4 linked regions of the Homo sapiens genome follow. The protein of the gene in region 2 interacts with the protein of the main gene of each other region in a biochemical or structural test. Each region holds a gene or a part of one and is shown on either strand. Other genes may lie near its edges. The genes, in order: POLI, SMC1A, ESR1 and ATM.

Evidence for each region.
Region 1: the proteins of SMC1A (region 2) and POLI form a complex in vitro, tested with the Homo sapiens proteins (one large-scale study listed by BioGRID).
Region 3: the proteins of SMC1A (region 2) and ESR1 form a complex in vitro, tested with the Homo sapiens proteins (one large-scale study listed by BioGRID).
Region 4: the proteins of SMC1A (region 2) and ATM form a complex in vitro, tested with the Homo sapiens proteins (2 studies listed by BioGRID and IntAct, with this or other methods).

The regions. Positions count from the first base shown.
Region 1 is NC_000018.10:54,293,399-54,300,793, reverse strand, and holds the end of POLI (DNA polymerase iota isoform a (long)), read right to left. Parts: intron 7,146-7,395; coding exon 6,327-7,145; 3' UTR 2,560-6,326; downstream 1-2,559. UniProt on the Homo sapiens protein: Error-prone DNA polymerase specifically involved in DNA repair. Plays an important role in translesion synthesis, where the normal high-fidelity DNA polymerases cannot proceed and DNA synthesis stalls. Favors Hoogsteen base-pairing in the active site.
Region 2 is NC_000023.11:53,405,655-53,409,154, forward strand, and holds part of SMC1A (structural maintenance of chromosomes protein 1A), read right to left. Parts: coding exon 3,408-3,500; intron 303-3,407; coding exon 117-302; intron 112-116; exon of another isoform or gene 19-111; coding exon 1-18. UniProt on the Homo sapiens protein: Involved in chromosome cohesion during cell cycle and in DNA repair. Central component of cohesin complex. The cohesin complex is required for the cohesion of sister chromatids after DNA replication.
Region 3 is NC_000006.12:151,805,896-151,814,181, reverse strand, and holds the start of ESR1 (estrogen receptor), read right to left. Parts: upstream 6,501-8,286; 5' UTR 6,270-6,500; coding exon 5,818-6,269; intron 5,076-5,817; exon of another isoform or gene 4,911-5,075; intron 1-4,910.
Region 4 is NC_000011.10:108,245,612-108,250,735, reverse strand, and holds part of ATM (serine-protein kinase ATM), read right to left. Parts: intron 3,773-5,124; coding exon 3,609-3,772; intron 1,804-3,608; coding exon 1,634-1,803; intron 36-1,633; coding exon 1-35.

The sequences.
Region 1 (7,395 bases), on a different chromosome or scaffold from region 2:
TTTGATTAATGTTAGACTCGTGTCTTTTATCCAATTTTTACTTTTAACATATTTGTCTTTATTTTTTAAAAAATTTTATATACACAGCAGACAGTTGGGTCCTACTTTTTCATGCAATCTGATAATCTCTGCCCTTTAATTGAGGTTTTTAGATCATTTATATTTAACATGATTTTGATATGACTTAAATGTACCAACCTACTATTTGTTTTCTATTTTCCCCATGTGTCCTATTCCTCTTTTCTCTCCTTTTAAGCTTTTTTTGGGGATTGAATTTTGTGGCTTTTTATTATTCTATTTCTTATCTTCTTTACTGGCTTATTAATTAAAACTTATTTTGCTATTTCAGTGGTTATTTTAGGGTTTATATTATACATCTCTAACTTATCACAGTCTGTCTTCAAGATGTAACCCACCACTTCATGTTTAGTTTAAGGGCCTTACAATAATATACTACCATTTCTATACTTAAAATTATATACTTCCCCTCCTGGCCTTTGTACTGTTACATTTTACTCCCACATATATTGTAATCCTACAATATATTTTTAATAATTTTTATTTTTGTTTTATATAGCCAACTTTTAAAAAGACACTTAGAAATAAGAAACAAAAAAAGCTTTTAAATATACTCATATTTCTGGTGCTCCTCATTTCTGTGTGTAGATCTGTATTTCCATCTGGTGTGCTCTTCCTGCCTGTTGGACTTCCTCTAATTTTATGGGTAATGTAGGTCTACCGGGCATGAGTTCTTTCATATGTATGCCTTATGTTCTTATTTTCCTTTTTTTTTTAAGATATCTAAGTTAACCAACTTTTCCCCCACTTCTTTACTTTATTTGAGGATGTCAGACCACTGTCTTCTGGCTTCCAATATTTTCAAAATTGTTGGCTTTGCTTGTTTTTCTGCAATAGTATGTCTTTTTCAAGGGATGGTGTTTATCACTGGTTTTAAGAGCTCTGATTAGGTTACTCCTTGGTATAGTTTTCTTCACGTTTATTGTACCTGGGATTTGCCAAGCTCTTTGGACCTGTGGGTTTATAGTTAACCTCAAATTTGGAAAAATTTCTCCATTGTTTCTTCACATATTTTTTACATCTCCCACCCTCTTCTCTTCTTTGGGGACTTGAATAAGACATGTATTAGCCTGCCTGAAGTTGTCTCATAGCTCACAGATGCTGTGTTTATTATTTTTTCTCTGTTTCTTTCTGAATAATTTATTGCTCTGACTTCTAGTGCACTAATTTTTTCTCCAGCAGTATCTGCTGTTAATTCCATTCGGTGACTGATATGCAGTATGATACTTACATGAGATATTCAACATTTTATTATAAAACAGGCTTTTTTTGTTTTGTTTTGAGATGGAGTCTTGCTCTGTCACTCAGGCTGGAGTGCAATGGTGGGATCTTGGTTCACTGCAACCTCCACCTCCCAGGTTCAAGCGAGTCTCCTGTCTCAGCCTCCCCAGTAGGTGGGACTACAGGCGTGCACCACCACGCCCAGTCAACTTTTTGTATTTTGGTAGAGACAGGGTTTCACCATGTTGCCCAGGTTGGTCTCGAACTCCTGAGCTTAGGCAATCCACCAGCCTCGGCCTCCCAAAGTGCTAGGATTACAAGCATGAGCCACCACGCCCGGCCCAGGCTCTGTCAACAGGCTTTGTGTTACACTACTTTGCCCAACTGTAGGCCAACGTGAGTTGCTCTGAGTATGTCTGAGGTAGGCCTGGCTAAGCTATGATGTTTCATAGATGTATTAAATGTATTTCACTCATGATATTTTCAATTTACAATGGGCTTATCTGAGCATAACCACATTGTCAGTCAAGTCATACCTATATTTACTAAAGTAGATCACTTTGGGGCCATAATACATCTCAAAACTTATTTTAAAAGATTCTGTAGTAGGGCCAGGGGTGGTGACTCACACCTGTATCTCAGCACTTTGGGAGGCTGAGGCGGGCAGATCACGAGGTCAGGAGTTCAAGATCAGCCTGACCAACATGGTGAAATGCCATCTCTATTAAAAATACAAAAATTAGCTGGGTGTGGTGGTAGGTGCCTGTAATCCCAGCTACTCGAGGCTGAGGCAGGAGAATCACTTGAACCCAGGAGATGGAGGTTGCAGTGAGTCAAGATCACACCTTTGCACTCCAACCTGGGCGACAGAGCGAGACCCCATCTCAAAAAAAAAAAAAAAAAAAAGATTCTGTAGTATAATTGGTCTGGTCTTCGTTCAGGGTTCCTGGACACCAAGCTCCTAAAACCCATGGAATTTCCTAAACAACAGAAGTGCCTTCATTATTCATGGTAAGCCCTGACACTGTATGCTAATGATGTGACCCACAGTGGGCCCTAGACAGCTAATGCTAAAAAGATGATTTAGGATGGAGGTAGCTCACTTCAAAAAAACAACCATGATTAGGGTGTTGAGACTTTGAGCCAGCCTGATGTCCAGACAGAGGAGGGAAACTGGAGATTAAGTTCAAGCACACAGTAAAGGTTTTAATAAATCATGCCTACGTAATGAAACCCCAAAGAAAACTCTGGACTTCTTGATTACTTGATATGTTTTATTTCTTGACTTGGACAGTTACATAGTTGTTACAATTACTCATTAACATGTTCATTTATGTTTATGTACCTTTCTATATACAGATTTTAAAATAGAAGTTTTTTTAATATTGAAAACAATCCAGATTTGATGGAAGACACAAATCTGCAGATTCATAATGAACCTAAATCCATGATAAATCTATAGCTAGACATATAATAAAAACTGCGTATCTCCAAAGTAAAAGATATTATCTTAGAACAGCTCAAGAGATGTCAGTTCTAAATCTACAGCTCTAAGGACATAATTTCAGAAGGTATAAAGAATTCTACCTAGAAGGAACATCTGACACACAAGAAAAAAGGTAAGCCCCCACCATGTCCCATCAAAAAAATAAACATTGACTATATAAAATACTAATAATATCCAATTTGGAGATTTAATAAAGAACTTGTGGAATTTAATTAGAATTAATGTTATTTCAATACCTTTGTGTTGTTTGGAAAGAGGGTAGCATTTTTAGATGTTTAAGGATAATCAAAAGGACTTGTAACATTCACATTCCAAATCAGTAAAGGGAAAATATATGATTAAATAGAAAACCCAACTGATCCCAAAAGATAGGAGGAGAGATAAAGGTGGGAAAGAAGCACAACATAGAAAAAGAAATATATTAAAAAATAAGATGGCAAAAAATAAATCCAAATAAATTTGTACTTTGGCACTACAGTGGAATAGATACTTTTTAGAGTTCTCCTAGTACAAAACACTAGATCTTGGAGAAAAGAGACCTCTTAATTCATTGCTGGTTTGTACCATATAAGGGAAATCTCCAGGCCTACACTCAAGACAGAAACCCCCTCTACACTATACACTCAAGAGAGAAACAGAAAAAATAAAAATAAAAATACCCTCTACATTCAAGACAGAAACAGGAAAAAAAAAAAACAACAACAAACTCGAGCTGAAACAAAAGCAAGAAAGCAGCAGAAAGCATCAAGCAAGAAGCAAGCTTGAAAGATGGGGTTTATCCCTGGAGGCAGATAGCTAACAGCATCTGCCTGTTAGTTTGGAATTGACCTGCAGAGACAAAACCTTCGGCTAGTAGTAAGGGTCAGGGAGCTTACACTTAAGACAAGGCATTCAATCAGGATCCACAAAGGTGAATAGAGTATGCCAAGGAGTTTGTACCACCTCACCCAGAGAAGCAACGAACTCAAATCATACTGAAGGAAAACATACACAATTTAGGCCCTCTGTCTTCTCGCAGATTAACACATACTCAAGGAAATAAGTCACAATGATATGCAATAATAACCTTAAATGTAGACTTATAAAGACTTAAAATATTGAAATTATCAAAAATATCATATATTTGACTTTTAAAAATTAGAAACAGACTTACAAGGGACTGTAATGAGTAAACGGGAAGTTAAAAAGAATCAAATGAAAAATATATTTATTGAAATTAAAACCATCATTGTTTTAAATAGCAGGTGAGATGCTACTGAAAAATGAACTAGTAAACAGAAAGATAGAGCTGATGAAATTACCCAAAATGCAGTAAAGAGAAACAAGAGGATGAAAAATATGAGAAATTAAGAGACATGAAGGATACAGTAAGAAAGTCTATCATTTGTATACAGTCCTAGAATAGAGAAGAAATATTTGAAGAGCTAGTGGTTGAGAATTTTACAGAACATGAATTAAAAGATACAGGAAGAAGCCAGTATATACTAAGAATAAAAATAAATTCGCACTTCCAAATAATACAGTAAACCTGCAAAGCACCAAAGAAAAAAGAGATAATCTTAAAAACAGAGAAAAAAGATCCCATAAAAAAGTTGATTCTGAGGCCCAAAGATGTTGAGACTAACTTAAAACCACAAAATAAGTAGCGTAACTGTGACATAGCCCGTACATTCTCAATCTATGAAATGTATTTTTAACTATTTTGCTTTCTCTTTTTAAGCTGGCCAAAACCATTTACTTTGTTTTCTTAGCCATTTTTTCTTAAGCCCCTTCTAGCTGTCCAAGGTCCTGAAATCATTACAAGGACTATAAAATGTTTTAATGATTTACAAAAAGTTATATACCCTTTTCATAAGTTTAATTACCTTACTGGAATACTCATGTAAAAAATACTATGTTCCTTGATTCAGAGTACTAAATATTTGCATGGTGAACAATTTCTGATGTTCTTGCTTCAAGTTACTGTTCCTGATAACCTCAAACTACCTATTTACAATCCTTCGTGTTAGCATATTTTCAAATTCCAAGGAATCCAAAACTAAGTTAAAATTTCAGAGCTGGGGCCAGGAGCAATGGCTCACACCTGTAATCCCAGCACTTTGGGAGGCCAAGGTGGAGGATCACCTGAGACCAGGAGTTCGAGACCAGCCTGGCCAATATGGTGAAATGTCATCTCTACTAAAAATACAAAAATTTGCTGGGTGTGGTAGGGCATGCGTGTAATCCCAGCTACTCAGGAGGCTGAGGCAGGAGAATTGCTTGAACCTGGGAGGCGGAGGTTGTAGTGAGCTGGGATTGCGCCACTGTACTCCACCCTGGGCGACAGAGTGAGACTCTGTCTCCAAAACAAAAAAAGAAAGAAAAGAAAATTTCAGACCTAGAAGAAAGTATTTTTAAGCTACTCTTTGGTTCATATTTGTGTACTTTATTTTTAAAGTCTCTTCTTTAGATTATATGTGCAAAAATTATAAACTTGAGACCAGGATACTCCCATATTGGTGCTGAGGGATACTTTAGTATATTCTATAAACATCCTCTATGTCTTGCAAATTATATAATACATTCTCAATCTTATATCCAATTTTTAGTTTAGCAGGCAAAAGAGGAAGGCAATAACAATGGGAGAAAGAGGACATCCACCAATTTAGTAATGGTCTATATTTGTGGTTGTTATGACAACCTAATATCATCTCCAAATGTAGGGAAGATACAAAAACATCTCAGTGCTTTTAGGCCCTTCAAACTAGCTAGAAAGAAATGGACTTCTTCCATTATCCAGTATGCTTATAGGCCCATCACCTTGCCTTTCTGGTGTCCATCTTTCCCTTAATTTACTTGCACGGAGAGTTCCTTCTACCACTGTTCTCTATAACATATACCCTCCTCTCACTTTAACTCCCCACCCTGGCCCTAGCCAAACCATTCATTCATTCAATGTTTATTGAACGGCCTTTGTGTGCTGTGTATTGTGGTAGATTCTTGGTGTATGAAGAAGCATTAATTGAATATAAATTGCTTTGGTATTTTAAAAGTCAACATACTAAATGTAATGTAGTACTTTAGTCAAAACTATCTATATTTTTAATAGGTTAGTTGGCAGTAGGATTTGCTATTCAGCCTAAGAGGCTGAATTTGAGATATTCCACATTTCACAGGAAAAAAAAAAAAAAAATGTGTCCTTTACCATATCATTGCAACGATTTGGCTATTTTTTATATATAAACATATACATCTCCCCACCAATTCATGAAAAATATTCTATGTTGACCATGATATTCTTTTTATTGAAAAGTAATATAAAATGGCTTTAGACATAAAAGATAGTATTTTACATTATTTCTTCTGTTATATTTTTACGCTTTGTGCCAGAATTTACTTCTTGCAACTATTCTTGCTTTATCTGGAACAGTTTACTCCGTTATTGAATATCTATTAGTGTTTAATATAGAAGAGCTTAATAAACCGCTAATCCGAAAATAATGGTATTCCCTTGCTTTTCAGACCTTTTTGCTGAATATGCTTATTTATGTCCAATGTGGAAATCTGATCCTGCTCTCTTCCACTCTGCCAGCAGTTCCTTTTGTACTGCTTCTGGTAGTTCATAGAAAACTTGAGGATCAATGTCAGAAGGGAAAGTAATTTTCTCATCAACAGAATCTGGCTCTCTATTTTCTGTAAGTCCTTCATGAGAGTCTGTTGCTACTGTTTGCTTATGGCTATCTGTAGTGTGGTTTCTGGAGAAAAGTTGCTCACTCTGCAAGTTTGGAAATGAATGAAAAGCAGACACAGCAGGGTTTGAATTTGTAAAGTGGAATCCTTGAGGTTCTTTAGGTCCTTGACTTATTCGTTCATCTTTTAATCTATTATCTAAATAATATGAATAATCCTTTTGGCTAGACATGTAAGAAGAACTACTGCTATTAAAGCCTGATGTTCCCGGTTCACAAGGAGATACAGAGGATACCTGTTTGCTACTGGATAAATGATCTCTAGGATTTATGGGAATATCTTGCATTTGTTTTTTAGAAAAGAAAGATAATACTCCTCTAGAGGCATGTAATGGACAACTCACACTTCCTTTCCCTTGAAATTTTTCCCTAGATTTTCCAGAAAGGATTTCTTCTTGAATATCTACTGGAAGCTGCTTGAAGACTTCTTGGTCAACACCTTCAGGAAGTGAACAGAGTGGGAATTCATTAATGTCTTTTTCTTTAGAAAAATTTGTGGTATCTAGTGGAGACTCCCTAGTTCTTGTACTTTCAATTCTTCCACTTGGTAGGAAATCCCGGTTTGTTTCTTTGTCTTTGGGAAAATCTTCCATATGAGTGTCTTTCATTTTCTAGAACACAAGAATAACAGACTAATTTACATATCTGATATCTTTTAAATATCGCTGCTGCTGCTGTGTGCCTGTAGCTATTATCTGACATGTTTCTAACCTACTCAACAAATACAACTCTTTGTGGCCAGTTCCAAACAACTAGAGATCTACTACCACAATTATTCACACTATTTTGTGAATCTCTACCCACTATTCCAGGAAGAGGTTTCCTTCCTAGATAGCACTGAGACAGAGGTAAATATGCATT
Region 2 (3,500 bases):
CTCATCTGTAGGCTTCACCTGTGGGGAGAAGCTCAGTCAGTGGCAGAACACAAACAGGGAGTACTAGAGGAGGGGCCCTTGAACACTGGCCTGACCCAATCCCCAACAAGCCTCACCTCCAGGTAGTCAAGAGGCAAGAAGGTCTCAGGCTCCCCACGCTGCTCCTTGATATACTGAATACAGTCCCGGCCTGTCTTCTCCGAGTCCACAATAATGGCATCCATGTTCTTGCCCAAAACCTTGGTTACAGCAATCTGATACTTCTTTTGTGTGGGCTGGCATAGGTCAATGAGGCGGCCGTACTGAGTAAAGTAGGAAGGGAAAACTGAAGTATGAAGCTTTTGGAAGCTGGCTCAGGAATCCTAATTCCCAGTATGGAAAGGGGGACAGACTAGAATCTATATCAGGAAGTGAATGCAACTGTATTGCCTAGTGGTTAAGATAACCCAATACCAAGCATGGTAGTGTGTGTTTGTAATCCTAGCTACTTGGGAGGTTGCAATGGGAGGACAGCTTAAGCCCAGGAGTTCAAGACCAGCCTGGGCAACATAATGAGACCCTGTCTCAAAACAAACAAAAAAGACAGCCCACTAGTTCTGTACCCATGCAACCCTACCCTATCTGAATGAGACTGTATGGACTGAGGAGGAGGCAATTGCAGACTAGCTTGCTGTGTGCACTCCAGATCAGCACAGTGGCCAATCCTAACGTCCCTTTGAAAGGTGGAAAAGTTTGGGTAAGAGAAGGGAGGTAAAGAAATGAATAAATGAGTTATGTAATGAGGGAAACTCAGTATTACATTAACACCTCAAAAGAGGTTCAGAGCAAGAGATGATATTGTCTCTTAGCACAATTATCCCAGATGCCTGAAAGTATGAAGCTATGTTTGCCGAGAACACTCCTGGTTTTGGAACCTAACAAGATTGAATAGAAGCCTGCAAACCTGAATGGCCTCACCCTAGGAGACATTTTTACATGACATGATCATGGACTAGACTAATTATTAATTAATGACTCAGTGGGATTCTAGTAATGTGCCAGTATCTTTCTACTCTTTTTTGGAGACGGAGTCTCACTCTGTTGCCCACGCTGAAGTGCAGTGGCGCAATCTTGGCTCACTGCAACCTCCACCTCCCAGGTTCAAGTGATTCTCCTGCCTTAGCCTCCCGAGTAGCTGGGATTACAGGTGCCCGCCACCATGCCCGGCTAATTTTTGTATTTTTAGTAGAGACGGGGTTTCACCATGTTGGCCAGGCTGATCTCAAACCCCTGACCTCCGATGATCTGCCCGCCTCGGCCTCCCAAAGTGCGAGGATTACAGGCGTGAGCTACCGCTCCCAGCATCTTTCTATTTATTACATGATTGTTCTGATGTAAGGGATCTGTGTTTGAAGATCAAAGTGGACTGTGGTTTTATGAAATATATATTTAGTCTTCTACCCGTGAGTTCCTGACACACAACTCCTAAAACCCTTAGAATCTCAGGAATGAGCAGTGTCTTTTGTATGTTAATGAGATGATTATGGCTGGAGGCCCATAGATAGCTTCTGGATAGGGGCTGGTTACCAGAAAGACCAAGGCAGGATTAGATTTGGGACTCTTAGCTCCACCCCTACAACCTTCAGGAGGGGAGAGGGGCTGAAGGTTGAACTGATCACCGATGGCTGATGATCTGATCAATCATGACTACATAATGAAGCCCCTGTGTGGGGGTACCTGGAGGGTGGCTTGCCCAGATTGGGCATGGAAGCTTCACATCTCTTCTCCCATACCTTGCCTTATGCATCCATCTGGCTGTTCTCTGTATCCTTTGTAATATCCTTCATAATAAATGGGTAAACATAAGTAAAACATTTTCCTGAGTTCTGTGAGCTGCACTAGTAAATTAATCGAACCCAGGGAGGGATTCTCGGGAACTGTAATTTATAGCAGGTCAGTCAGAACCACAAGTCACAACCTGAGACTTGCAATTGGCACCTGAAGTCTTGGACTGAGCCCCTAACCCACAGGATCTGATGCTATCTCCAGATAAATAGTGTCAGAGCTGAAGTGAATTATAGGTCACCCAGCTGGTGTCTGCTGGAGAATTGCTTGGTGTGTGAGGAAAAACCCCCACACTTCTGGTGTCAGAAGTGAAGTGTTGTGCTGGTTGTGAGAGTAGAAAAAACACTTTGGTTTTTTCCTATCTCACAGAAGAACACAGCCCCCATGCTATCAAGGAAAAGCCTATTCTGGTTCCCAAGCAATGACTTCAGGCAGTCGTGTCTGAATCCAGAATCATCTTTCTAAACCTCACATCTACCATTTTACAGACCACCACCACCCAGGCACTATGCCAAGTATCTTATATATATTATTTCAAATTCTCACAAGCACTTAGCAAAATAAATCTGGCTGGGCGTGGTGACTCACGCCTGTAACCCTACCACTTTGGGAGGCCGAGGCGGGCAGATCACTTGAGGTCAGGAGTTTAAAACCAGCCTGGCCAACATGGTGAAACCCCGTCTCTACTAAAAATACAAAAAAATTAGTTGGGCATGGCGGCGAGCACCTGTAATCTCAGCTACTTGGGAGGCTGAGGCAGGAGAATCACTTGAGCCTAGGAGGCAGAGATTGCAGTGAGCCGAGGTTGTGCCACTGCACTCCAGCCTGGGCGACAGAGCGAGACTCCATCTCAAAATCAATCAATCAATCAATCAATCTCTTCTACCAGTTCCCTTCCTGCAGCCTCCAAAACCAAGCCTGGTTCCCTAAGAACTATCAGATTAAGGGGGCAGGGACTGACTCTAACCATACTTATCTCCCCAGCAGTGTCTAGAGAAGTGATAGGGAAATATTAGTGGAACCAAACTAAGTTGAACCCAGGTATGGGATAATATTCAGGGAACCTGGGAACTCAGGATTTGGTGAAAGAGGCCAAAAGATCAAGAGATCTGATAAAGCTCAGGGTGTCCCTAAAAGCTACTGGACCAGTTAATACATGCCAAGGGAGCCCCTTTATAAGACTGCACAGAGCTACTTCCTGGGAGAGTAATTCCAGCCCCATGGCCCCACCTGCTTCCAAAATCTTTCCTGGTTTTCCAATTCCCCTCCCAGAGGCATAGACATAGCAAGACAAAACCTTCAGAAAGACGCAATTGGTATGATGAAAAGAACATGATTGCCTAGTATGACAGGTTGAAAAATAAAAAAAAAAAAAAAAAAAAAAGAACATGAGCTCAGGAGAACAAGTTGGGTTTGAACTGCAGTTCTTCCTCTTAGAAGCGGTGCTTTTTTAAACCTCTCCGAGCCTCATTTCCCCCAACAATAAAAATGGGATTGGCAACCCTGTCCTTACAGGGCTGCTGGGAAAATCGTGTGACAGTGAGTGTAAGTGCTCAGGAAATGAGTTCCCTCTCTGCTCTTACCACAGAGCCAGGGTAAAGGCGCTTGATGCTTTCCATTATCTCTGCCTTTCGCTGCTGGCGGCTGCTCTCCTGGCGGTCGATGCGGGCATCCCC
Region 3 (8,286 bases), on a different chromosome or scaffold from region 2:
CCCAAGCCGCCCAACAAGTCAAGGAGCCAAGAAAACTGCCCAGGAAGTAGTGCCAGGTAAGCACAAGTTGGCTGCTGGGGCCCCTAACTTGCCACCGTTTAGGAACAGGCAGAATGAGCCCGGGACCGAAGGATGGAAGACAGAACTGGAACCAAGGAGCGTGGACCTTAGGGCCCGGCCAGTTCTACGGCTTCTGAGAAGGAGATGAGAATCTGAATAACAAAACTGCAGAGGTCTTCCATTCCTCCTGGGGTTGACAACATTTGGGGAACTCTCAAAAAGAACCCACCTGAGCTTTTCAAGGGCTCATTTGGAAATGTCTAGTTCTGAACATTACTTAATGGATTTTATTAACTTTAAGTGAACTTTTATAATTTTCCCAAGTGTAACTCATAGGATCTCCAAAAAATAGAACATTACCAAACAAAGAAGTCTACTATCTTATTAAAGATGGCACATTTATTTAAAGTAGATATTATAAGAACAAACTAATTTGTCCCTCTAAATAGTTCAGAGGAGAGACAAAAAATTTTCAGTCTTGCTTGGAATTTTGGGTTCTTTTAAATTTTTTGTATAGCAATTATAGGTACTTAATAAGTTTCTAATATTATTGGTAATATCATTATTAAAATTTTCAGACTATGGAATTAGAATTCTAAAACAATGAGCCAAGTAGATTTAAAGGATTGGATTTCTGTATAGGATGAACATCTCCAGGGTCCATAGGAGGCATCCAGAAATACCACCTACCCAAACTGAGACAAAAACTTCATTTTCATCATCATCGTCATCATCAAAATCATGGATCATTACCACCACCACATCACTTACAAGCGGGTTGTAAGAAAGTCATACTCTTTCTTATTTGCCCACGTTTCTTGAAATTATTACTTTATTAAACTACATAAAATTGTGTCAGTTGAGACCAGAATAGTTGTCATTCTGTGCTTCCTATATTTTTTGAGGTGATCTAAAAATATACACATAATTTAAAACATTGTTGATTACTGCAAAACTTTCTTCAGAGTCCCTCCTGATATTATCCAAGGCAGAGAATTCAGCAATTATGGTTTCTTCCCTCATGAGATTAAGGATATTATAAAGGTGCTTCCCGTAACCTCCAGCCCACTTAAATTCTGGGATTTCAGAGATCAGTATGAGTATATTTTAGAGACGAAGTAGCGAACAGCTCAGACATACTTTTTTTTTTTTTGTAAGTGACATTACACGTCAATTCACTGGCGGAGTTTAAAATATAAAACCCCTCAATAACTTTGGTGAACTGCCTCCTTTCCATGAAGTCCCTTACACTTTCGCTTTGGCTGGTTTCAAGTGGCTGTATTTTTTGGATTAATAGAGCATCTTTCTCTGGAGTATGCATATGGTTCTAAACAAGTGTAGCCACTCTGTTTTCCTTTCTTTAGATAAGCAAACTGAGACAGAATTAAACCAAAAGACTAATTTGCTCCTCTCCATTCAAAGTTGTCTGGAAAAGAAAGAAACACACTTAGCACGCTGCTCTCTCTACTGGGTTCTTCTAAAGTTACATTAAAAATAATAATGAAGTCACAGGGAGGGGTTAAGATGTATTAATTTCATGCTGAGTACGGATTTTAGAAAAATATAATTAAAATTCATATATTTCCTTATGTAAAATTGTTTACACATAATCAGGGTTTTGACTTTCTTTAATGTATCTGTAAAATAAATGTTCTTTATGATAACCTGGTAAGCCAGGCTGCAGACAAATGTTGCAGATGGTGATAAAGATTTTACTTAAATTTGACTTTCACAGGAAAAGATTTCATATAATCATCATTCTATATTTATAACAAAATTCCTGACCACTTAAATCTGTTATTTCCCAGCTTTTTAGCCTATGAAAGCACCAAAACAAATATTAACATGTGAGTAAAATAATAAAAACACCTAATGTTTGTTTAGTTTCTATACCACTTTCACATATACAATCTCACTTAACAAAGTTACTATTGTCTCATCATTCATTAATGGTAAGTCTGGCATCTTTTCTAGTTTTTCCTGATATCTATGGTTCCTCCCCTTGGCAGTTTCTTACACCTGTCTTACATATCCTTAAAACTATAAGAAACTAAAAGAAATCCCAAGCCGCCAAAATTCTCAAACCTGAGAATTTTCCCAAATTATGAATGTCATAGACTAAGTATAATCACAAAAGTAAATAACAACTTTAGCCAGGGATCCAAATTAAATGAGTGTGAGAAAGATTAGAATAAGTGGCAATTATCCTTCAGGAGCTTTCTTCCAAACAGGTACAAGCCACATGGAGGAGGTGAAAATGAAATGGGGATTGAAGATGTGATTCCGTTTTCATCCGAAAATATGCTCATTCACCAGGGAATATGTGACTCTGGACTATTCTTAGACCAGCACAAAGTGTCACGTAATCAGTAACAATTTAAATTAATAAAAAAGTAAGATCAGAAAGGAAGGGGGCTGAAATGTTATCTAAGTAAAAGGAAAAATGTATCGGAAACTTGAAACTTAGTCACTTAAATCTCACTTTGGAAATCAGTCTCTATTCAAAGTTGAGAAAGAGTTTCAAATGATCACCAGTGGAAAAATTAGTTGTCCAAAATATGCAGATGGCCAGGATACAAATTAGCAGGGCATTGATTTTGATGCAAAAGATTTATACATTTGCCAAGTTTTTTGGAGAAGTGAGAGACGTCTAACTTTTAAGAATACTGAGTAATAAAACTGAAATAAGCATGCAGCATTAAATTCCTAATTAGAACTTTAAAAAGGATAGTTGATATAGTTAAGCTTCATCTTTAGTTTTATTCAAAGTTCCTAAGTTGTTTGAAATCTAAAAAAGGAACCCAGGATAAGATGACTCCCTGTTTCCTTCATTGTGAAATTTTGAGTAACATCTTGCAAAATCTCAGCTTGCCAAGTAACAAATTTATATTAATAACAATTTGCTGGGACATGTGACAATCTTTCTCACATTATTATGCGTCCAGAGAAATTTTATCTATTACATTTCTTCACACATAGATGTGGCTGCATATTATGGAAGAAATGGAAGAAGGTAACCACAGCATCTCAATGCTAAATGACGTGACCTTCACATAAATTCTCTGAACATCCAGTGGGACACTCGGGAGGACAGTCCACATGACAGCACCATTCTACAATAGAAAAGTTAAGAATCAGATAGTAAAACTTAGCCTAAATGACTAAAGACACCAACCTAATTTATAAGGGGAAAATGAAGACAATCAAAATAGCCTTTTGATTTGTATAGGTAAAAACAACCAGCCACTTGCCTGAATTTTTTGTTTTCTACTGAACATATAATATTTTAGGCCATTAGCTTTCTAATTTTTTCTTTGAATTCAATCCACAGTAAGAAATACATTTTACATCACAATCAGCACACAGAAGCACATATAATTAAAACAGATTTTCAGGAAACAAAACTTATCCTTACGAAATACCATGCACTCTGATATTTTCTATTATATTCCTTTCCATTTTAGTCCTTTTAAAAAATATTCTAGACTCACTAAACTGAGTTCATGACCCTCTGGGTCATGACAAGCAGTTTGAAAACACTGCTTTCAGCCCCAAAACTTTTGAGAACTACTTAAGAAACTTAAAGTTTCCTAAAAGAGCCCAATCAATCCTTTCCTTTATACCCAGAGTCATTTAAGCAGAAAAACTGAGAGGGGAAAAATACTAAATAATATCTGTCCATATGAAGAACTTGCATAGATGCTTCTTTTCCTTGCTGGATAATAACAGGCAGAATTCTAACAAAAGAGGAAAGATAATCCGGGAAATAAAACACAGGAAAAATCATTCTAAAACTGAATTTCCACACAGAGTCCCATTTGTGCAAGTTTTTTTTTTAATTTTTAAGTTCCTTGTCTCTTTTTTTATTATTCTAAGAGTGTTTGAATATCATGTAATGCAGAAAGTGTAAGATAGGGCATATTACACTGATACCACTTATCACTGGGATGATGAACAATTTTGAATAAGATGCGATCCCCTCTGTATTTGACCAGGTTCACTTTGTAATTATTAGCAAGGCAGTAAATAATCTACCAAGGAGCAGTCTCATTAGTGCCCATTGAAATTCAGCAGCATTAATTTGCAATAAAAGAACTGAAAATTAAATAGGGAAGAAAATGGTTTCTGGAGTCCATCATAAGGTTATGGAATTCACATCATACCAGTGCCTTCCTTCACATCAAGCAGTTTTAAATGTTGTGTGGAATTAGACTTAATCGCTGTACTTTGTTCTTCCATTTAAAAAAAAAAAGGTGGGCAGAAGAAATCCTTTTTCTCTGTTTTAACCCTAAATTAAAACAAGTAAAATTAATTTGAAATATGCCAACCTTTAAAAGTTTTGTTCATTGTTTGTCTTTTGAGTAAAGACAGCTTGGATCTGCGTGGCTGTGGGATGCTCTAAATTTCTCCAAGGCGGCTGAAGATGCACACTGAATACCCCCAGAATCTGCCCTTCAGTATCCTCTGGGGCCAAACTGCACTTTAGTCCCCTTCCTTCTGCTATAAATATCCCTGGAAACAGAATACTGAACAAAAACTGGTCCACGGCTTACAAGGCAGAAAGATATAGGGACACCAGTCCGGATACCAGTGTACAGTTGGGAAATGCCTAATTCAGGACCCAGCCATGTGGCGCCCTGAAGCTTCCAAACCCAGTCCGGGGTACACCTGTCCTGTGGCCACCTAGGAAGGTGTTCACCAGAAGCGCCCACCTAATCCCTCTGCAGGCCCATCAGGAAAACAAAAAACAAAAAACAAAAGGAGAAACTGGGCAAGAGAAAATGGGAGGGAGAGGAGAGGGAGAAAGAACAATTCTTGTAGGGAAAAAAATTAAAATGAGGACACACAACCTTCGCCATTGAAGTCACAAAGTGGTCTCCTGTGTCCTGGACCGGCCGCGCTCCTTCCACAGTGGCTGCGAGGCGCAGACCCTGGCTGACCCGCACGCCACTCCGGGGCATTCTCCCCGGGTGGGACAGGCTTGTCACTGGGCTGGCAGGAGATTATTTTTAAGCACTTGTGCTTCCATATGGCTTGTTTTAAACTCGCGGGACACCTACAAATTTCCGGCTGTCAGAAGTCACATGCCAGCAATCCGCTCCAGCGCGGACTCAGCCAGCTAACTCCGAAATCAGACCCATTCAACTCCCAATCGCTCTCTAAAGCCCCAGGACGTGGGGTGGGGAGGAGGGGAAAGCGGGTGACAGGAATCGCTTCCCAGAAAGTCATCATCATAGCTGACATATTTCCAATCAAATAGTCTAGATGAAAGGAAATTTGGGGAGCACATTAAACAAAAACATTAAAAGGATAAATAAAACTCTGCTGAGCTCTGCTAACTCCAAACACCCCCAACTTTAAATGCCAAGAGCGAGACCTTCCCAAGTGACTCAAAGCGCCCCGTGTTTATTTGCCTGGAGGTGTTTTCCCCCACAAATAACTGCTGCTTTGTCTGGTTTTCCAACGTGTGTTTTGTTAGGAAGCCCGGGCTTTCGGGTCTGCCTCTCGCACGGACGGTAAGTGGGTGGAGAGTACGTTTTTTTCAGCTGCCCGGCGAGAGAACTTGACTCTGAACGCAGCGCGGGCTGCACGCAGAACCCCCGGGCTGGGCCGCGCGCCCCGGGCTCCCTGCGCGCACCCTCGGGTCGCGCGTCCCGCGGCTCCCGCAGCTCCCTAGGCTCTCCCTTCTCCCTCCCTCCCTCCCTCCCTCCTGCCGGGCGCGGCGGCCACCCCGACGGGCGGCGCGGGCGCGGGTACCTGTAGAATGCCGGCGGGCCGGCCTCGCGCACCGTGTAGCCGCTGGGCTCGTTCTCCAGGTAGTAGGGCACCTGCTGGCCGTGGGGCTGCAGGAAAGGCGACAGCTGCGGCGGCGGGTGCAGTAGCATCAGCGGGCTCGGAGACACGCTGTTGAGTGGGGGGAAACCCCCCAGGCCGTTGGAGCCGAACGCCGCAGCCTCAGACCCGGGGCCGTAGGGGAGGCCGGTCTGACCGTAGACCTGCGCGTTGGCGGCGGCCGCGGCGTTGAACTCGTAGGCGGCGCCCTCGGGGTAGTTGTACACGGCGGGCTTGCTGCTGTCCAGGTACACCTCGCCCAGGGGCCGCTCCAGGGGGATCTTGAGCTGCGGACGGTTCAGGGGCTCCAGCTCGTTCCCTTGGATCTGATGCAGTAGGGCCATCCCAGATGCTTTGGTGTGGAGGGTCATGGTCATGGTCCGTGGCCGCGGGCAGGGTGCAGACCGTGTCCCCGCAGGGCAGAAGGCTCAGAAACCGGCGGGCCACCTGGAAAAAGAGCACAGCCCGAGGTTAGAGGCGACGCAGCGCATGTCCCGCCGACACGCGAGCTCTGGCCCCGGCCCTGCCCCGGGAGCCTGCGGGTCCGGTGAAGCCGGGCGACCCGACGGGAGCAAGTGCAGTCCCAGGACGAACGCCCTCCGCCAGCTCCTGGGCTCCCGGGCCTCCAACTTTAAGTACTGGTCTCCCGAGCTCATATGCATTACAAAGGTGCTGGAGGACGGCCAGGGACTGTTGCCTTGCCCTGACATTGGCTTAAACATCACTCCAGGCACAACTCGATTTGGAGCGATCCCAAAGAGCAGCTTCCCTGAACTTTACTTTACTTGTCGTCGCTGCTGGATAGAGGCTGAGTTTCACGGCCAGGGGGCGGGGGCGCACGAGGATCTGCTAAAGGTGGCCCAGGGAAGACTGGGCTTAAAATAAACGCGAAAGACGGATCCAGGGGCCGGCTTTCTCTAATGTGCTGCCTTATGTGCCCCGTGCCAGACTCCGATATATCTCTGTTTGTCTCTCTTTCTGTTTGATTCCCCCTCCTCGTTGGCTAGAAATACGTAGTGTGTACATAGGATGACCCTGGGGAGGACTACACTGTAACCGAGATAGGGCAGATAGAATGGGGTGTGCGGTTGCATACGCAGCCAGCCACAGACAGCTATATTTAGCAGCTGGGGGAACTGACAGGGGGCATCTGAGGGGAAGGGGGCGGAGATTCAGGGTATACATATAGGAAGAGCTGCATTTTGCCATCAGGAGAATGCAACCTGCCAGGACCTCAGTTTCTTCCTCTGCAAAATGCTCCCAAAGTAGATAGACCCTTCCACAACCTTCTGAGATTCTCTCAGCCTGACTTGTGTGTTTATGTTGGACCACAGTACTGTACTTGGTCCCATTAGGAATTCTCATGTGAAGGATGATTCAGAAAAACCTTTGGTTAGGGCGCACATGGGTGTTCATGCCTTCCACAGGTTGGTTATGCAACCAAAACTTCAGAAAACTGAATATAAAATGTGACCTTTTCATACCAAACATAACCTCAGGTCACGAACCAAAGCTTTGGCAATTATGTTACATTGTCGGTCTGGTCCAGCTAACAGATTTTTAAAATGCATTTCTGCATGTCTATCCTTTAGTCCTACAACTCGATCTTCTCGGTTCACTTGGGCTAGGATATGCAGAATCAAATATCCAGATGAAAAACAAATAGAAAAAAGTTTTTAACTGAATTAAAAGTTAAACATGCACACGCACATACACACACACATATATGTGTATATATATATATATATATATATATATACATATTAAGGAGACAAAAAATAGGTGAAGTATATCATGCGTCTATAATCTTGGATAGTTTATACTTTTGAATAAACTTCCTTTGCTGCAGCCTAATAGACTCTGATACAACTATCAATACTTTGTTTTAATTGCTATCCCAAACACCCAACAGAGTATCTGACGAAGTGTTCATGGTCTATCTAAATGCCAAGCTTACTGTTACTAAGAGTTACATTTTTGACTATTTTATATCAAGTATACATTTTATCTAATTCTTACAAAAATAGACCATTGTTGGACAATATGCAAATGTAGCTGAAGCCAAAATCGAGTTTAGCATTAATGACTATAGATTGTCAGCAAATAAAGGGTTAAAAACACATTAGGTGCATCGCAGATATTTCCCTTTATGGCCAGCAATCATTACTTTCCAAAGCAATTTTTTACAGATGATTTAATTTCCATAAATCACACTTTCAATTTTCAAATGCCTTTTTAAAACACATGCAAAAAGCACTTCATAGGGCTCTTAAAAAATGTGAACCTGCCAAATTATATGCAAATGGCACAAAGAATCCTACAAGTCCTGAAAGAAAAAGGAGACACACACATACCCCCATGGAGAACAGCAATCCTCATCTCCCTGCTAGGATA
Region 4 (5,124 bases), on a different chromosome or scaffold from region 2:
GATACTTTGATATTAATTGGGTTGCAATCTGTAGCCTAAAAAAAAAAAAAAAGGATAATTTGAAAACTATTCCATCACATTAACAAACTAAAAGGAAATATATAGACATGGTACTCTTACAATATCCTAATTAGAGAATCACCATCATTTCCATAGTACTCTAAAAATAAACTGGCTGTTAATAGTTACTATGTCCTACTTCCTAAATTGGCAGGAAAATTGTCAACGTTTGGCTAGCTGGGTAAGCTGTTAAGTTTCCCTTAAACAAATATTTTAAAGGATATTAAATTAGCAATATTTGGGCCAGGTGGTTTCCCAGCACTTTGGGAGGCCAAGGCAGGCAGATCACGAGGTTAGGAGTTTGAGACCAGCCTGGCCAACATGGTGAAACCCAGTCTCTACTAAAAATACAAAAATTAGCCGGGCATGGTGGCACATGCCTGGAATCCCAGCTACTCAGGACGCTGAGGCAGGATAACTGCTTGAACCTGGGAGGTGGAGGTTGTAGTGAGCCAAGATTGTGCCACTGCACTCCAGCCTGGGTGACAGAGTGAGCCTCCGTCTCAGAAAATATATATATATATATATATATATTTAGCAATATTTTATTTCTGAGTTATCTTGTACATCCTTGCTCTTTAGTCACCAAACGATTCCTCTAAAACAGGAAAACAAAGAAACCCAAAAAACTGTTTTTCCTTTACATTAATTCAGTTAATCCAATAAACATTTGCTGTGTATTCTCTAGAATGTGTGATACTTAAGAATAGGAGTCTTATGTTATTCATCTCTGTATATCTAACGCTTAGCCCATAACAGGTGTTCAATAAATTACTCTTGACTAAAAGGACAAATTAAGAATCTTAAATAGCTACTCTTAACTATATAAAAATGAGCTTAAGCAATAGGTATCTAAATCAATATGCTTTTCCCCAGAAGTCACTTACACTTAAACATTCCATCAACATGGTAATCAAAAGAGCACTGATCACGAGTTTGACTATAATCTATAAATCTCTGTCCCTACAGAAGTTGCTTAACCTCTCTGGGTTTCAGTTTCTTTTCAGTAAAGCAAACAGGCTGAACTAGATAAATTCTAAACATCCTTACCAGATCTAATATTTTGGGATTCCAAAGTATCCATAATTTATTTGATTACTTAAATATATGTGAACGTTACATGAGAATAAAGAAGATAGAAAATAAGAGAAAATAACTTTTTATCATGGCATAAGGTCAAAATTATTCTGTGATTTCTTAAGATTATCTTTAACTTCTTCCTAATTCTATTAGAAGGTGCTACGTATGCTAAAATCTATTGTTGAAGCGTACAATTCAGTGAATTCCATGAGGTGCACACTTCTAATTGCCTATCAGAGAGCCAGTCCTCCTTCTTAACTTGCTATGACAATATGATTAAAATAGGTGGCCCTGCACTTGGCCCAAGCAAATGAGCCATTAATGATTGATCTCATTTGTCATGGCAATCACATATCCCTTTGCTAGTAATAGGTTTGGGGGTAGACAAATGACTTAGTTCTGGTTGAGATGAAAGGATTCCACTGAAAGTTTTCTGAAAAATAACATACAAGAGATTAAAATGACACTGAATGAGAAAATGGTAACACTTTACCAAGGCACAAGATCAAAATCATTCTGTGACTTCTGAAGGTGATCTTTTATTACTTCCCAGCCTAGTTCTATTTTCTTCCTTTTGCAAGGGACACTGTAATCACTAGATTCTCTTTGTGTAGTAGTGTAAGATTGAGAAATCTCCAAGGATCTGGTATCTTCATTAAAAACCTGTAAAATAAAAATAAATCCACTTTTTTCTTTTTTTTTTTTTTGAGCCAGAGTTTCGCTGTTGTTGCCCAGGTTGGAGTGGAACAGCACGATCTCGTATCACCACAACCTCTACCTCCCAGGTTCAAGTGATTCTCCTGCCTCAGCCTCCCGAGTAGCTGGGATTACAGGCTTGCACCACCATGCCCAGCTAACTTTGTATTTTTAGTAGGGACAGAGTTTCTCCATGTTGGTCAGACTGGTCTTGAACTCCCAACCTCAGGTGATCTGCCCGCCTTGGCCTCCCAAAGTGCTGGGATTACAGGTGTGAGCCACCACGCCTGGCCAAATACACTTTTTTCATTGCTATTGTCTTCTAATATTTCATTAGGGGGAAAAAAAATTCTTTCTGAAATGAAGATACAGGGAACTCATAAAGCAAGAGTAATACATTACAGAAACATATAAATCTGATAACATAGTAAGAAACAAACATTTTGCATGACAGTAATGGCACTTTAGAAAGCAGGTATTACCAAGTAATGCATTAGTTTTATTTCCTGGGAACATTTACTAAAAGCACTAAGAAATCTAAAAGTAAAGCAAAAACCTTTACTTTCAAAGGGATTCAAGTTTTTAAATTTAAGAAATTTTAAGAAATATTAAGAAAATATTTGACAGAGTGAAATTACTACTCAGGATGTTAACCAAATCTCTGGGGAACAGAGTTTTATTTAAGAAACATTAGGCCATCAGGTGATGGATGGGTAAGTAAAATGGAGTATATCCATACAACTGAATATTATTCAGCAATAAAAATGAATGAAGTACTGATTCATGGTAAAACATGAACTTTGAAAACATTATGCTTAGTGAAAGAAACCAGACACAAAAGACTCACATATTGTATGATTCCATTTAAACGAACTGTCCCAAACAGGAAAATCCACAAAAACCAAGATTGATTAGTGGCTGGTTGCCAGGATCTAGGAGATGCAGGGAATTGGGACTGAATGCTAAGAAGGGATGAGGTTTCTTTTGGGATGATAAAAAAGTTCTGGGCTGGGCACGGTGGCTCACGCCTGTAATCCCAGCACTATGGGAGGCCGATGCAGGAGGATCACAAGGTCAGGAGTCTGAGACTAGGCTGGCCAATATGGTGAAACCCAGTCTCTACTAAAAAAACAAAAATTAGCTGGGCGTGGTGGCAGGCACCTGTAGTCCCAGCTACTCGGGAGGCTGATGCAGGAGAATCACTTGAACCCGGGAAAGGGAGGTTGCAGTGAGCGGAGATTGTGCCACTGCACTCCAGCCTGGGTGACAGAGCAAGACTCCATCTCAAAAAAATAAAAATAAAATAAAAAAAGTTTCCAGAATTAGTGATGATGGTTGTACAACATAGTAAAAATACTAAAAACCACTGAAATGTACAACTCAAAATCGTGAATTTTATGCTATGTGAACTCTAGCTTAATTGCAAAAAAGAAACAGACTGGGCTTGGTGGCTCATGCCTGTAATCCCAGCACTTTGTAGAATACAGTCGAGTCGAATCGAATCATTAGGGTTAGGGTCACCTTATTTCCTAGAGACAATCATTTAAGAATGAAAAAGTTCATTGTTAGTTTTCAAATATCTGCAAAAGCATTAACTTTTAAGTTAAAAGGGTAATTCCAAATATTTCTGATAGTTTGAAAGGAATAGTTGCATGTACAGAGTCATTTTATAGGCTTTTTGTGAGAACACAGGTTTTAAAAGCCCAAAATGCCCAGTTTAAAAAAAAAATTAACAGGAAATTTCTAAATGTGACATGACCTACTTACTGTACCTGGTGACAGATATCTGCCATCAATTCAATCAAATTTTCTTTGACGGCAATATTACGAAATCCTGAAGAATACTTTCCTCTACTTCCTATATGACTTATCTCATTCACTAGCAGATCATATAAGTTGTATAAAATACTTCTCCATTTTGTTGATTCATAAGCACCTGTAATCCAAAAAATTAAAATGTAATTTTTATGTATGTACTCTGTTTACACTGCTAGCTCCCACAAAATTATTCAGCTGTCAAGCTGCATCAGCGTTAGAAGACACCTGGTCCAACCTTCCATTCAGTACTAATGCCTCTTCTGACAAGATCCTTGACAAACTCTATTTCATAACTGTCCATTTTACATTTAGATAACTGTGTTTCTTATAAATTTCTTCCATATTCTGACCTAAAATCTGTCTTTCTCCAATTTATTCTCCCACCTGAGGCAAATACAATTAATATGTTCCCTCTTTCATATGAGGACCAAGTTCTCCGTATGCCTTTTTCTGGCCTAAGAGAAAAATATTACGAGTTCCTTCAACTAGTGTAAAAATGACATATTATTCAGACTTCTCACCATTTCAGTCATCTTTCCCAAGACACATTCCAGTCAACTTAAAATGCTGACTATACAAAATCTGGTGAACATGGTAATCCAACTGTGGCTTGACTAGTATGCGAAACAAAAGGTCTATTATTTCTCACAAACAAGGTACTACAAAATCTATTAAAGTAGTCTGAAACTACATTAGCTTTTCTGGCATCCTCATCATCCTGCCAATTTTAAATTCACCCTAAATATGCAGTTAACTAAATCCCTAAACATATCATATCACCTCCTAATAAGCCTGATCTTCATCCTGGAGATAAGAGGTGAGTAAAAGATGAAAAACTATTAAAAGTCACTATTCTTTCACTTATAGTAGTTTCATGGGCTACATATTATCTAGATATACTTATTAGAAGAGCCCATAAAACAAATACACAGCTACTTTTGATAAAAAGTGGCTACACGGCCGGGCACAGTGGCTCATGCCTGTAATCTCAGCACTTTGGGAGGCTGAGGCGGGTGGATGGTTTGAGGTCAGGAGCTCAAGGCCAGCTTGGCCAACATGGTGAGACCCCATCCCTATTAAAATACAAAAATTAGCTGGGCATGGTGCCAGGCATCTGTAATCCCAGCTAATCAGAACGCTGAGGCAGGAGAATTGCTTGAACCCAGGAGGCGGAGGTTGCAGTGAGCTAACATTGCGTCACTGCACTTCAGCCTGGGCGACAGAGTGAGACTCTGTCTCAAAAAAAAAAAAAAAAAAAAAGTGGCTACAAGACATTTCCTCCATTATAGCTGCTATTACTCAATGTGGTATGCTGTTTTAAGAAAGTCACTATACTAGCCATGATGAGTTGGTCCAAAGGCTAGTATAAGCCCAAAGGCAATCATAGACAGAGCAAGAGGAAACTCCAGTTCCAGCCAATAAAGTTCCTAACTACAGAAAAGCACTATACCTTCTGGGCAATACTCTCTT